3 separate regions of the Homo sapiens genome follow, and regions 1 and 2 are each linked to region 3. The links come from fine-mapping of genetic effects on gene expression. A gene starts in region 3. Each other region holds a variant in brackets. All regions are shown on one strand. Distances are from middle to middle. Region 1 overlaps CHPT1 (choline phosphotransferase 1). Region 2 overlaps MYBPC1 (myosin binding protein C1). Region 3 holds the start of CHPT1 (choline phosphotransferase 1).

Evidence for each region. PIP is the estimated chance that this variant, and not a neighbour inherited with it, causes the effect. A credible set is the group of variants that fine-mapping cannot tell apart.
Region 1: its variant is the best candidate, but not a certain one, in a credible set for the expression of CHPT1 in stomach (GTEx, PIP 0.50).
Region 2: its variant is the best candidate, but not a certain one, in a credible set for the expression of CHPT1 in esophagus mucosa (GTEx, PIP 0.88).

The regions. Positions count from the first base shown.
Region 1 is chr12:101,725,215-101,727,714 of GRCh38, forward strand. It overlaps CHPT1 (choline phosphotransferase 1), which reads left to right. Exons shown (of 9, transcript NM_020244.3): 8 at 1,080-1,190. Among named protein-coding and RNA genes, the nearest start is that of SYCP3, 13 kb to the right of the region's middle. The variant C/A (reference allele first, on the strand shown) is at 1,297.
Region 2 is chr12:101,602,744-101,605,595 of GRCh38, forward strand. All of the region lies in intron 1 of MYBPC1 (myosin binding protein C1), which reads left to right. The region is part of intron 3 of LOC105369938 (a long non-coding RNA gene); the gene reads right to left. Among named protein-coding and RNA genes, the nearest start is that of MYBPC1, 9.2 kb to the left of the region's middle. The variant T/C (reference allele first, on the strand shown) is at 1,682.
Region 3 is chr12:101,696,255-101,699,054 of GRCh38, forward strand. It overlaps CHPT1 (choline phosphotransferase 1), which reads left to right and starts at 1,386. Exons shown (of 9, transcript NM_020244.3): 1 at 1,386-1,880. The coding sequence starts at 1,608. RefSeq lists an enhancer at 860-1,109 and silencers at 1,330-1,669, 1,930-2,119.

The DNA of each region.
Region 1 (2,500 bases), 29 kb after region 3:
TTCATAGTCCATTCAGAAGTCTTCATTCTTCCTATGGTGGCAGTGAGATATACTTAATTCTTTGAGGTGGACAATGAACGTTTTCAGGCAAAATTAAAAAAAAAAATGTTTAAAAATCAGAATAATGTCCTTTAATTTGGTATCCACTATAAATATTTTTAGGGCTCCCAAACAATCCAGTTTAAAAAATAGGGGATAATTAATCAAAATATCTAAAAACTCAATGTAAGTTTTCTTTTAGTGAACTTAGGTATGTATTACCAAGTGGAATTGCTGAATTAAAATACCAGGTGTTAAAAAAATCAATCATCTGTCGTAACGAGTAATTGGCCTGGTTTACACCTGTGATGGAGACTGGTAAACTGAGGAAGTCAAATTCAATTTTTATTTAAAACACTATGTGGATGACAAAAAAAAAAAAAAAAAGCCACACACACAATGTGGTACTTTTCAAGTAAGCTTTTAACATAAATGATAGAGATTTTCCCCTCATGGGTGAGAATTCCCTCTCCAAGGGCAGAGCTATGAGTCTCCTTTTTCTCCTGGGTTTCATTTTCTGAAGAGAAGCATTTGACTGTAGACTCTGGGCAAAGTTTCTAAATAGAGGCCATCTTTAAATTTGTAAACACAATTCTGTATATGCTTCAAGTATGGTATCTTTTCTAGACCTTTTACCTTCTTACAACTAACCTCAAAGAAACAGAAATGTATATGATGGAATTAATTCATTATAAGATGACTGATAACTTCTTCTAGAAGGAAATTTGCAGCTTCGTGGCACAGCAGGAAGTTGAAACAATGTGGAGTCAGGAGAGTTGGGTTCTGTTACTTTCTAGTTTCTGTATTTTAGTCGTCTTTTTTACCTCTGAGCCTCAGTGTCTATAACTGTGAAATAACCTGCATTTTCCAGAGGACTACAGTGAGGTCCAAATTTGAAATGTATTAAAGTGCTTTAAAATGTAGTATTTTTGGTGAAGAATTTTAGGTTAAGGTTTGATATTTGGGGGAGAAACAGAATAGTGCTACTTGAGAAAAGATAGATCATAATCGATTTTATATTTTCTTTTTTGCTTCTAAAGGTGATTTCTTCATTTGATATGGTGATATACTTTAGTGCTTTGTGCCTGCAAATTTCAAGACACCTTCATCTAAATATATTCAAGACTGCATGTCATCAAGCACCTGAACAGGTTCACAAGCATATTGACTGACTAATAGCCCAAGGAAAAGAGGAGATGAAGTTAGGGGAATCTATGAGTGAAGGAAATCCCCCTGTGCAGGAGGCTAGTATACCAT[C/A]AATAAGGTTATATTTGAATATAAAACATAAACCCTGTAGATTTCATTGTGTCTTATTTCAGTTATGAAGCCCCCATTGTATCATCATTTTTTATCACAGATGTTCTCAGAATTGTCTACATATTAATTAGAAACAAGACTAAAGAAATGTCAATCCTGAGGACAACAGTGAACCCCTGTAATTCTAAGTAGCAGTTTGTCTCTGAGACTTATCAGACACAGGGTTTTCACTGCCAAAGGATTACATAAATATTCAGAACATAAAGGATTTTAGCCATCTTGAGGGTGCTTACTTTGACTGCTAAAAACTGAAAAGTGATTCAATACTGCTTAAGTGCATGGCTTATAATGTAATTATTGAATCAAGTTATGTTCTAAGAAATTTTTTATACTAATCATTTTTCAAGAGGCATATTAGTATGTTATAAAATACTTGCTTTTAGTATACTAGAATTTAAAAGGGCTACAGGAATTTTTTAAATAAAATTTGTATTTAATAAAAGGAATTTGTTGTACCAGTTCAGAAAAACATACGAATCTTTATACTGAAGGTAACTTGTTCCTTGATATTTTGAGTTAAAATTTCACTGTCACTGAAAAGTGGATGTTAAATATTCCCTTTCATGAAAAATGAAAACAGTAGCTAAGAGTCAGTTGACATGTAAGAAAATTAGTAACTTAGAAAAACTTACTTGGTAAAAAAAATCTTCCTTTTAGAATACAAAAGTTTACTTTAAGTACACACTGACTCATTTGAGGTGATAAGGGATAAAATAAGTAAAAGTTATTCAACCACTAAGTACATTAGGTACTGATACTTATCTTTCCACTCTAATTGAAATGTATTTAGATTACTCATTATGAATACTACTAGAACTATCACAAAGATCTCTGGGGATCCAAATCTTCAGATTCCCATCTGACCCTATTTATTTTTAATTTTATATAATAGTTCAACAGACCATATGTCATATGATGAAGTAATCAAAAAAAAAAAAAAGGAGTAATTTGTGTACTACATCTGTTTTAGGCAAGAAAAAGGTATATTGAAGAAAACAGTGAAAGATGATATTCCTTAAAAGCAAAAAAACATACTTATGGGAATTAAGTACACAGAAAACACTGGAGTACTTATTTTGCCTCTAACTAACTATTGGTAAAACTTCCCAAATAAGGACTTTCTTACAAGGATGAATAGTACTTA
Region 2 (2,852 bases), 93 kb before region 3:
CATCATTCCCACCACTATATTTCCTTCTTTTACTTGTGGTGATACATCTTCGCTTTCACCCATAGAAGCTCAGATCAAATAAAAGGTCTATACTCCATGACCTCTGTTGTGTTCTTACTGAAATGAGCCATGTCCAATTCGGGGGTCTGTAGTTGTCAGCATAAGGTGATAACGGTTGGGTTGTTTCTTCACTGTTCTTGTGGGGACATGGCCTTTCCCACTTAGATGAAAGAGTTACCCTACAGAGTTGAACAATATCTATGTCTGTCTCCAAGGGTTATAAGTCTTGGGTTTGTGGGACTTTACAATTTCTCTCCCTGGCCAGGCGTGGTGGCTCATGCCTATAATCCCAGCACTTTGGGAGGCTGAGGTGGGAGGATCACCTGAGGTCGGGAGTTTGAGACCAGCCTGACCAACATGGAAAAACCCCATCTCTACTAAAAATACAAAATTAGCAGGGCATGGTGGCGCATGCCTGTAATCCCAGCTACTCAGGAGGCTGAGGCAGGAGAATCACTTGAACCTGGGAGAACGGAGGTTGTGGTGAGCCAAGATCGCGCCATTGCACTCCAACCTGGGCAACAAGAGTGAAACTCCGTCTCAAAAAAAAAAAAAAGAAGATTTCTCTCTCTTATCAGGGGTGCTTTTTGGTGGATAGGGTCTTCCTCAGTCTGCGCTTTCCTGAGATGACCACATAAAGAACTCTCCATGACCACATATGGATGTGGTGGGTGATTGATTGAGTGTCACTGTGTTTATTGCGGTGGAATTTTATTTTTATGACCCCACCTGGCGTCAGGACTCTTCTTCCTCTATTTTTAAAAAGTCACCCAATGTGAGGTCCAGCAACAGTTTGGAGCAAGGCCTTTAAGAAATTTATCCTATAACCCTATAGCCACATAAATAAGTGATACAAGATCAGGTACAATGGCTCATGCCTGTAATCCCAGCATTTTGGGAGGCCAAGGCCAGAGAATTGCTTAAGCCCAGGGGTTTGAGACCAGCCCAAGCAACATGGTGAAACAGCATGAAAAAATACAAAAATTATCTGGATGTGGTGGTGTACACCTGTAGTCCCAGCTACTTGGGAGGCTGAAGCAGGAGATTCACTTGAGCCCAGGAGGCTGCAATGAGCCATGATCATGCCACTGCACTCCTGCCTGGGTGGCAGAGTGAGACTCTGTCTCAAAATAATAATAACAATAATAACTGATTCAAGATCCCCAAAAAAGACACAGTAAAGGAGGAAACTGTTAACAATTCAAATTGCTTTTGCAATAATTTCTTTTTGACCTATGCTAAAATTTTAAGCTCCTTCAATCTGAGTAAATCTTCCCCTGCAAAACACACCCCATTTGATTCTTTAAAACATGGTAAGAGTAGTGAGGAAGGCAAGTCCTCAGATCTTAGCAATTTTCCCCCAGCCCCATGTTAACAATGAGAAGCTATTTGTTGCTATGTAATAAGGACCATATTTTAATCCTCTTCCTGTGTGAAATGACATCCTGAGATGAAACTTGCATAATTAGAAGGACAAAAGAATGAATTGACTAGGGGAGGAAAAAAAACCCTGTAGATTCAGGGAAATTCCAAAGGTTGAATAATGAGTCATTGAATATTTACATGATCAAGGTACAATTAGACTTCATCTATTCAGAACATTAGAGTACAGTACAGTCTT[T/C]GGCAACATTCGACCATAGTAAATAAATATGGATTAAATTGATTGAATCATTCTGAATAGCTGGATTCTCTGCACAGCTAAAGGTTAATTTTGTTATATAACCTCAGAGCCTTATTTTTTCCACCAGTTTGAATAGAAACATTCTTAAAATGTAATATATTACTCCTTGCTTTAAAAAATAAAGTACAGTGGATATAATTTGTCTTAAATTATAGATATCAGTTATTAGTAGCATGTGACACCCTGAGGGCCCAAATTATTTGCTCTTTTGAAAAATGGACTCATATTGATTTGTATTTTGAATTTCTTTCCAATTTTTCTTAGCTTTCCTACTTTATCCCTCCTAGAAGTGTGCTGTCTTCTTTAGTACTCTTGTCAGTCAGCATATGAAACTGTTCCCCTCACTCCCCTTTGTCCTTTATTATAGACGCCATTCCAGGTAATTAATCTGGCTGAGTAGAGTTTAGCACCACCTAAGGCACAACATTTAAGAAGGCACTGACTTTCTGGGTCACCAAAATGCAGGTTCAGCCCCTTAAGTGACCTCCTTAAATTTTGCTCCTCAGGCACCCTGCTTACCTTTCCCAAGTCCCAGGCCCTGGGTTTACTGAGGAGCTAGGGCCTTCTTCCATGAGGAAAACACAGAAACTCTTAGTGCCTGGAACGTAGGAGCTTGAGATAAATGCAGAGGCCCTTCAGAGGCCCTTTTATTTGGGTGGTCAGAAGCTGTTAGGTAAGTTGCTAGATAGCTGAATTCTGCATAGGGTAGGTGTTACTAGACACTATTGCCCTTTTGTCTCTATTATGGTGCACTTAGGAAAATGAGTTATTGCTTCAAAATCAATGTAAGGTTTTTATTTTGACTGATTCATTCATTTTATCAAAGCTGCAGATGTATATGATATATATGACCTGAGTTTGTTTTAAAAATAACATGCACAAAATCTTTTTCCAAAGAGATTTGCAATAAATTCAAAACCAGTGGTTCAAACCTTTTGGTCTCAGATCCCTTTGCACCCTTAACAATTATTGAATAAACTAAAGATCATTTGTTTATGTGCATAACTAGTGTATTATACACACTAACTTTAATTTGGAATACAGTAAATATTGTATTAGTGTGTCATATATTTACTGAATTAAAAATTAAAATTGGTTGGGCATGGTGGCT
Region 3 (2,800 bases):
GCACATAAACCAGCATTGTTAAAAGTGGATCTCCATCATTCCATTTCCTTTCCTGCATTTGTCAGCATCGTTTTTCACACTAAAGATGAGGAGATCCATATTCCTAAGACATATACGCTTGGTCTGTAGAGACCCTCATTGCTCTAAGGCAGTGGTTGCCAGTTTTTTCCTTAAAGGGCCTAGTAGGACATAGTCCAGGCTTTGCCAGCCATACGGTCTGTCACAACTGAATTCTGCTGCCCTTGTAGCATGAAGGCAGCCAAACAATAGGTAAGGAATAAACATGGCTTTATTCGTGGCACTGAACTTTGAATTTCATATAATTTCACAACACAAAATTGTATTCTTTTGATTTTTTCCAATCATTTAAAAATGTCAAAACCATACTTAGCTGGAGGGCTGTAGGAAAACAGGTGGTGGGCTGGGTCTGGCACACAGGCAGCAGTTCGTGGACCCCTGTGCCAAGTGTTTGACGAAGCCCGTGAGGCAAACTGCACTTGCCGATAGAGGTTGCGCCACACAAGTGTCTTGGAAGCAATTTCTGGCTTGTCCTAGGCCTTAGAAAGTGCGTGCAGATCAGAGCCATGAAGTGAAGAGCAAAGCAAGTGACAGGCCTGTCTCAGGTTGTGCAACAGAACGTGTTTATGACAGATGTCCCCTGTCCAAGTGAGTGCACTGTGAGATAAGGGGCCGGTGACCTACCAATGCGTGTGGCAAGCCAGCCTGTTCCCCCTTGCAGGGGGAGGACACTCCTGCCCTTTATTCCAGGGAAGAGTATGTGTAAAAATATTCACCCTTGTTGGTATCAAATGCGCTGAAGAAAATAGGTATCGGGGTTTCAGCCATTCGGTCTCCTTGTTAGTGTTTCTAAGCCCTGATTTTCAGTTTCAAAACCTTGGTCTCTGAATCCGCAGTGATGGGTCTCTAGAGCGAATACATGGCAGGGCCGCCTTCCTCCGTACAGAAAGGGAGAATTGTGCTTGTGTGTTTTACCAAGCAGGACAGATGGGGCCGTCACCCCCGTGACCCGAGCCCTGCAAAACTGTGTTCTCACACGAAAACCCCCAGGCTCTGCGGGCAGCGTGGTCCTGCAGTGGCTAACACTGGGCGACCGGAGTCGTGTTCCGACCCCTAGGAGAGGAACCGGCTCGGTCGTGGTGCAGCCCGCGAGGAGACGACCTCAGGGCGTAATCCGACGCCGTGGGTTAAGACATCAGACCTCAGGCGCAGTGCAGCCGGCCCCTGGGGAGTCAAGGACCTTGATCGCCGATAACAAGTTGCCGTTGGCGGGCGCCGAGGGTGACCCGCGAGCGCGGCACCCGCCTCCCCGCCCCTAGCAGGACCCCCTCCGCCCCGCCCCCAGCCGGACCCCTCCCCGAGGCCCCGCCCCACCCGCGAGCCGCAGCCGCGGCCCCACAGCTTCTGGGGCTGGGGCCCCGGCAGCCGGGCAGGCCGGCCTGACCTCGACCTCCGCCGTGCGGGCCCGACCGGTGAGTCCAGCCCGGCAGTCGCAGGACCCGGCCGCCAGCCTCTCCCTCCACCTCTCCCTGCCCCCAGCGCCAGGCGCGGGCTGCGCTCGGTGGCGGCGGCGGGGCCCTCAGGCGGCCATGGCGGCAGGCGCCGGGGCCGGGTCCGCGCCGCGCTGGCTGAGGGCGCTGAGCGAGCCGCTGAGCGCGGCGCAGCTGCGGCGACTGGAGGAGCACCGCTACAGCGCGGCGGGCGTCTCGCTGCTCGAGCCGCCGCTGCAGCTCTACTGGACCTGGCTGCTCCAGTGGATCCCGCTCTGGATGGCCCCCAACTCCATCACCCTGCTGGGGCTCGCCGTCAACGTGGTCACCACGCTCGTGCTCATCTCCTACTGTCCCACGGCCACCGAAGAGGTAGGGCTGGCCGATCGCCCGAGCCGGGCCCCAGATGCGCTGCGGGCGGGTCGCTGGAGGCGCCGGGGGAAGGGCGGACCCACGCGCGGCTGAGCCTCTCCCGGGCCCCGGAGGGGCGGACTGGCCACTGCCCCGGGCGGTGTCCGCCCTGGGCCGCCTGGAGACTGTCACGCCACTATCCCAATCCCGTGACCATCCCAAGCCTCCCCTGGGCAGCGGAGGGGCTGTTAAGGTCACTGCCCCAGGTCCTATGTCCGCGCAGATCCTCCCCACGGCCGCGGACGGGCCGGAGGGCGCCTGCCCAGCCGCTATCCCATGCGGCGCCAACCTGTGAGACGGACCCGCGGTCGGGTGCTTTGCACACTGGGGACTGAACACCCCCATCTCCGTCCTGCCTGGCACAGGGACTTGTGCCAAGCCCGAGACGCCCTTTGAATACTTTCGTAACCGTTCGTTTCTGGAAGGTTGAGCTAGTGATCTTGAAATGACCGGTAGCACTGATCAAAGATGAGTTAAGAGGTAACTTCCTCTTTGCTTCATCGACTTTTTCAAGAAAAACAAACTGGAATGTTATCAAGGCAATAATTTTTTTGTCATCACAACCTAGGGATTAAAAAAACCCCAACATTTTATTAGCAATAATTACATTTGACCTTTGTACAAAATAAGGAGTAAATATAGGCTTTGGATAGCTGTTCATCAGAAGCACCCTTTGGGCTGAGTGTGGAGGGATAGGGGGCAGAGTGGAGTTCACTCCCATCTATAGTTTATACTACGTGGGATAAATATTACATTGCACATTCTGTGACATTACTTTCTATTCTCTGCTCCAAATAGTGAAGTCCCTTTATAATCATTTGAGTGTAGGCCTTGTGGAGGACTCATGGAGGTTGAGGTTGGATTAACAGAAATACAGTGGA